Linked DNA regions of Homo sapiens. The protein of the gene in region 2 purifies or fractionates together with the protein of the main gene of each other region. This does not show direct contact. Each region holds a gene or a part of one and is shown on either strand. Other genes may lie near its edges.

Evidence for each region. The genes of interacting proteins can lie anywhere in the genome.
Region 1: the proteins of SPNS3 (region 2) and DMBT1 purify together in Homo sapiens (affinity purification with mass spectrometry; one large-scale study listed by BioGRID and IntAct). This does not show direct contact.

What each region holds. Positions count from the first base shown.
Region 1 is NC_000010.11:122,630,254-122,633,753, forward strand, and holds part of DMBT1 (scavenger receptor cysteine-rich domain-containing protein DMBT1 isoform e precursor), read left to right. Parts: intron 1-34; coding exon 35-237; intron 238-707; coding exon 708-1,028; intron 1,029-1,601; coding exon 1,602-1,622; intron 1,623-2,607; coding exon 2,608-2,637; intron 2,638-2,937; coding exon 2,938-3,088; intron 3,089-3,500.
Region 2 is NC_000017.11:4,440,440-4,443,939, reverse strand, and holds part of SPNS3 (protein spinster homolog 3), read right to left. Parts: intron 1-3,500. UniProt on the Homo sapiens protein: Sphingolipid transporter.

The DNA of each region.
Region 1 (3,500 bases), on a different chromosome or scaffold from region 2:
TCAATGTTGACTTGAATACATTTTCTCCATACAGATTGGAGGCACACCATAACTGCAGTTTTGATTATGTTGAAATCTTTGATGGATCATTGAATAGCAGTCTCCTGCTGGGGAAAATCTGTAATGATACCAGGCAAATATTTACATCTTCTTACAACCGAATGACCATTCACTTTCGAAGTGACATCAGTTTCCAAAACACTGGCTTTTTGGCTTGGTATAACTCCTTCCCAAGCGGTAAGTGCACACTAGACCATGCCTATGAGGCTTGGTGGATTTACCCAGCTGCCTCTTTGGGGGCACCATGGTTCCCCAAGGAAATCAAAGAAGGGCCTCAGCGATGCACGGCCCATTCTCTTTCTCTTGGCACTGACTGTGTGGGCAGGCCCTTGGGAAGGCAGCAAAGGGTGCAGACTGGGGGTTCCACCTGGCCTTGGGTCTGCCACCAACTCTCCAGGGGACCTGGTGACTCTCCTTCAGAGCCACCCCTCTCCGTCTGGAGGTGAGGGGATCTGAGCTTGGCGATGTCTAGAGCCCCTTTCAGCTCTGCATGGAGCGGTCCAGTACCTCCACCCCAGCTTTTCCACATTTCTATTTGGCGACTTTAGAGGTGGGAAAAGGCCTGTGGGATGCTTGGCCTTTGAGGTTTGTTGTGGGACATTTGTTGTGGGACATGGCCATGATCTCTCAGTTAATGTGTCTTTCAGATGCCACCTTGAGGTTGGTCAATTTAAATTCATCCTATGGTCTATGTGCCGGGCGTGTAGAAATTTACCATGGTGGCACCTGGGGGACAGTTTGTGATGACTCCTGGACCATTCAGGAAGCTGAGGTGGTCTGCAGACAGCTAGGGTGTGGACGTGCAGTTTCAGCCCTTGGAAATGCATATTTTGGCTCTGGCTCTGGCCCCATCACCCTGGACGATGTAGAGTGCTCAGGGACGGAATCCACTCTCTGGCAGTGCCGGAACCGAGGCTGGTTCTCCCACAACTGTAATCATCGTGAAGATGCTGGTGTCATCTGCTCAGGTATGGCCCAATGCCATGGAAGGCCCATTTCACCTGTAACTTGCTATAAAGCAAGAGCTTAAGGCCAGTGGCTGATGGTGTCTGTGGCCCAGGCAGGAGCTGGTCATTGTGTCCTCGTGGCCTGCGCACTCCAGAAGAGCATGCAGGGGGCTGCTTTATCTTTGGCCAGTTTCTGGACCCAGGGCCATTATGCTGAACACTCATCTGACTAAAGGACCTCCAGCAATGATTTTACTTCTTTATGCTTCAGTTTCCTTGACTGTTGAGTCGGGGTGGCTATGATAGTACTTGCTACTGGTGACAATTGGGATGGTTTTAGAACAATCATGGTCAAGGAGAGAGTGATGGGTGTTATGACCTCAGCTGTAATCCTGATGACCACAAGTATGACGGGACTTAGGGAGCATCTGGGGAAGCTGGGAAGGCTTCTCAATAGCAATTGCTGGGTGGACCTGGGGACCCTCGCCGAGGGGGGTCAGGTTATGGGCCATGTAAGTGTATCTCTGTCTCATTCCGGCCCCTCCTCCAAGCCACATGTCTGTGACCTATGCTTTTTTTCTATTCCTTTTTCAGGAAACCATCTATCGACACCTGGTAAGTCCCTCCGATTTCCATTCCACTTCCCTGGTCTCCAGGTCTCTCCATTACTGCTGCCTAGACTGTGCAGGGCATGTTGCTCACTCTCCAAGGAGTTCATCTGTGGTACCATCCTCTACAGCCCCTGTCCCCTCCCCTGCCGGCCACCAGGATAGTGTGCCCCTCTCTGTGCTTCAGTGGCCTGACCCACCTAAGATTAGGATCTCCAGTCAGTCCCGAGGTGAGGCCCGCCACCTGTCAGATTTGACTGTCCTCACAGACACCAGACCCTGACCAGTGTTGGCCAAATGGGGCCCACTGCATCGCAGAGCTCCTCCCTGCCTGCCCCTGAGCTGCTCTGAGTGTTCCCAGCATGGCCCTGGCACCTCTCCAACACCCCCCACTGCCCCGCCCCCTGCTTGCTTTGTCATCCCCTCCTGGCCTCCCATAGCAGCAGCTTCAGGCCTGTGCCCTCCCATCCATTCTCCACTGTGCAGCCCCTTCAAGAGATTCCTCAGGGTCTTCTGGTGATGACCCCGCTCCTCAGCACAGCATGACTGCCAGGGCTCCCCATGATCTGCTCCCTATGCTTGGTGCCCTCTCCCCATCCTCTGCCTGCTCCATCTACACGGAGGTTCCCAAATCTATTCCACCCAGGTGCAGTTGCACCTGCTGTTCCTCTGCCTGGGACACCCCGTTTCTACCTCTTTGCCTGCCCCCTAATTACTGCCCTTTTTTCCCCACTCCATCTGGGGCAGGGGCCAGACTTCCAGGCTCCTCTCCTTCCCCAGGCTTTGGTCAATCTCATCCTTTTCCCAGTGTGCTGGGATTCGCTCTCCTCCAGACCTCCCCAAAGGCAAGTGAGCTCCCCAAGGGCAAGGCCTGTGTCCAGCTCCTCCCTGTGGACTCAGGCTTGGCACAGCATCTGCACAGCTCATGAGCAGTCGACAGCTGTGTCAGGGATGCCAGAAAACTGATCCTGATCTTTTCTTTTTGTCAACAGCTCCTTTTCTCAACATCACCCGTCCAAACAGTAAGTTCTGAGCTCCCTGACAAGTCTGTGGCAGAGTGGCCTGGAAATTCCCCTTCCCATTTCCTCAGTGACAATGGGGCTGGGGAGGAGATGGCTTCCCCCAAAGTGGTCTCCCTGCAAGAGTGCCCTGCCAGCCCTCAGTGGACGGTCCAGATCTAGGCCACCTCTTGCTCTTACTTGGTTTCTGTCTTGGGAATTATTTTATAAAATTTTAAAGTAATTTAAATTTAAAGTAGTCCGCAGGTAGACTGTGCAGTGTGCTCTGGGGGTCACCGACATTCCCACTTTTTGTCCTGACAGCAGATTATTCCTGCGGAGGCTTCCTATCCCAACCATCAGGGGACTTTTCCAGCCCATTCTATCCCGGGAACTATCCAAACAATGCCAAGTGTGTGTGGGACATTGAGGTGCAAAACAACTACCGTGTGACTGTGATCTTCAGAGATGTCCAGTAAGTGTGCGCCCAGAAGAATGCCTTGGGGCCCCACAGACCTTTCAAGAGGGAATAAATGGTGCTTAAGTGTGCGCCCAGAAGAATGCCTTGGGGCCCCACAGACCTTTCAAGAGGGAATAAATGGTGCTTAGAAAGCCAGGAGAGAAGTTTGCTGAGAGACATTTTTGACCTAGCCCAGAGGCATCCCGTGGAGAGTTGGGGAGGGGGCACGAGAGCCTTGGAGTGGACAAAAGCTCTGGTTTCAAGTCCTAGGTCTTTCACCAATTTGCTGTGTGACCACAGGAAGTCACTCAACTTTCCTGAGCCTCAGTCAAAAGAGGGGAATAAAATACCTGCTTTCCTCACCTCACTGTTTACTGGGAAGGTCACGAGAAACAGAGAGGAGAGAGAGGGAGAGAGATGTGAAAAT
Region 2 (3,500 bases):
TTGCACAGACGGGGTTTCACCATCTTGTGCAGGCTGGTCTCGAACTCCTGGGCTCAAGGGATCCGCCCACCTCGGCCTCCTAAAGTGCTGGGGTTACAGGCGTGGGCCACTGTGCCCGGCCCACTGTCCATTTTTCTATTGGGCTGTTGTTTGTTAATATGTTTTGGAAATAAGTTCCCATAGTCTTTTATATTTGTTTTAAGAATTAGAAACGCAACTTCTGGGACTAAGTTGGCTGGGTTTAAATCCTGGCTCACCACTTTCTAGCTATGTGACCTTTGGTAGATTCCTTAACTCTTCGTGTTCCCCTTTCATCAACAGTGCTATTCCCTTGTTTGGTTACTGAGAGAATTAAGTAAAATAAAGCACATAAAAGTTATCTGCATAGCTTCATGTAAATGTCCAATAAATGTTATCTATTATTATTACTGATTGCATAATTTCAATCACCATCATACGGAAGTGTTTAGCTTTGTAGTCAAATTTATTAACCTTCTGGAGGGGCAAGTGTTATTTCATATCTTGTTTATGCATATCTTCTTTATCCAAAAGTTATAAAACTATTTCCCAGCTGGACGCGGTGGCTCACGCCTGTAATCCCAGCACTTTGGGAAGCCAAGGCCGGTGGATCACCCGAGGTCAGGAGTTCGAGACCAGCCGGGCCAACATGGTAAAATCCCATCTCTACTAAAAATACAGAAGTTAGCTGAGCATGGTGGCGGGCGCCTGTAATCCCAGCTACTGGGGAGGCTGAGGGAGAAGAATTGCTTGAACCTGGGAGGTGGAGGTTGCAGTGAGCTGAGATCGCACCACTGCACTCCAGCCTGTGTGACAGAGCGAGAGTCTCTCTCAAAAAAAAAAACAAAAAGCAAACAAACAACAACAAATATGTATATATCCTCATATTCCTCACATGCAGGGATCACTTGCAGGCTGTTTTAAGTGCCTTAAACCTGCAGACGCTCTGTGAATCTGCAGATGCCCTTCCCAAGGGGAAAACAGACACTCCTCATTCCCAAGGTCTCCTAATTCAAATCATTTCTGTGACACAGTGGGTGAAATGAATGCTCCCAGAGTTAAAAGACAGACTCTGGAGGCACACTTCCTGGATTCAAATCCCAGCTTCAGCAAGTCTCATAACTTCTCTGAGCCTCAGTTTCATCATCTGTAAAATGGACATAATAGTAAAACCTGCCTGGTGGGATTGTCGTGAAGATTAAATAAGTTGATATTTAAAGCACTTAGAATCGTGCCTGACATGTGGTAAGGGCCAAGTCAGTGTTAGTTTTAAATATTATTAATTAATGAACTCACTCCAGCAGCTTCTCTATCCCATGGGTGGCTGGAGGGAGCCTGACCACTGCCTCTTCTCACTTTCCACTCCTCTTCTCTTTTTTTGTTTTTTTTTTGAGACAGTCTTGCTCTGTGGCCCAGTCTGGAGTGCAGTGGCACGATCTCAGCTCACTGCAACCCCTGCCTTCTGGGTTCAAGTGATTCTCCTGCCTCAGCCTCCCAAGTAGCTGGGATTCCAGGCACCTGCCACCACACCTGGCTAATTTTTGTATTTTTAGTAGAGACGAGGTTTCACCATGTTGGCCAGGCTGGTCTCAAACTCCCGACCTCAGGTGATCCACCCAGCCTCCCAAAGTGCTGGGATTACAGGCGTGAGCCACCGTGCCCAGCCCAACCCCTCTATCTCTTCAACACCCTCTCTCTCAGTCATCAGTTTCCTCTTCTCAGCAGCCCTGTGGACAGACAACAGGCTGGGTCTAGGGCCATAGCACGGTAACCGGAAAAGGTAAAGAGACTCACCTGAGGCCACCAGAGACCAGCCTGGTCATCAGGCCTCTAAGCCCACTGTCCTTTCATGAAATTTTTGAGCTGCTTCTGCAAAGATGACCTTTCTCTTCACCTACTGCCAAACACACACACACACACACACACACACACACACACTTCTCCCTCCGTGGCCCAGGACTTGTAGTAATAATCTTGACCACTACGGTAAGAACCATACTATGGTAAGGGCCAGTGTGGTGGCTCACGTCTGTAATCTCAACACTTTGGGAGGTCAAGGCTGGTGGACCACTTGAGGTCAGGAGTTCGAGACCAGCCTGGCCAACATGGTGAGACCCCCCCCAACACACCCCCACCATCTCTATTAAAAGTACAAAAATCAGCCTGGCATGATGGCAGGTGCCTGTAATTCCAGCTACTTGGGAGGCTGAGGCAGGAGAATCACTTGAACCCAGGAGTCAGAGGTTGCAGTGAGCCGAGATCATGCCATTGCACTCCAGCCTGAGCAATAAGAGCAAAACTCCGTCTCAAGAAAAAAAGGAAAAAAAAAGAACCAGTGAAGGGAAATGTTGACTAAACCACCATTATCTATTTAATCGAGAAGGTTGTGGGTGTTGAACCAAGATGGTCTCACTTTGGCCACAGATATGGCTGGAAGATCAGCATCAGCTGCTGTCTCTTGGCCACAAGATTGAGGGGCAATTGGAAACCATGCATGTTCTAAAGCCATGATCTTCTAACTGTTGCTCACGTAACTCTTTTGTCTTTTTTTTTTCCTTTCTGTGGAGAATAGGGTCTCACTATATTGCCCAAGCAGGTCTCGAACTCCTGGGCTCAAGCTATTCTCCCGCCTCTGCCTCCCTAAGAGCTGGGATTACAGGCGTGAGCCACTGCACCTGGCTCTCATGTCACTCTTAAAGAAGTTTCTAGAACTATGTACTCCTCCACACATTTTCAGCTAACATTAAAATGTTCTTATCCCAAGTTTGAATCGTTGCCAAGGATGGGATTTCCAGCGTTGTTGTGTATTTTTTTAAACTGTATTTTCATCCAAACTCTTGGAGCTACAGGGTTGAGTTTATTCAGTTTATGGGAAATGTCTACAGTAGAATCTAAGTAATAATGCCTGTCCTCTTTTGCCAAAGCAATTAGACGTCAAACTGATTATAAGAAAAATGTTGGCTTCATTTTCTTTCATTGAAAGAAATGTGTTGACATGCATCCCTGAGACCGCTATCTCACTTTGAATTCTAATTTGTAGATAAATAGTAGACACTGCACACGGGAACAGCTAGATAAGGCTTGGCTCCTTGCCTGCGCTTGTAGCCTGGGGCAAATCTCCCCAGCACGTTTCTCTTGATGCTCTCTGCTTTGCTCCCAAGGTCCCCCTGGGAAAAGCCGAGCATCCACGCAGGGGCCTCTGTTTGATACCCCAGAGGTTTTTACACCCAGGAGCAGCACATCCAGGATGCGGAGAGGAGTCCCTTTCTGTTTACCATGGTAGACAGGGAATTGTACAATGGAAGGAGAGGAAGGAGAACCACAGGCCGACCACAGGCTCCCCCTCAGGCAGGTCATTTTAGGAAAAAAACATACAGGCTTGAGAATCTAGAAATAAATCAGTCTCTCAAAACTCTCTGTGTTCATGTAACCCCTGGAAAGTGACTGTGTATCCCCAGGGATCCCTGTACCCCGGTTTAAGA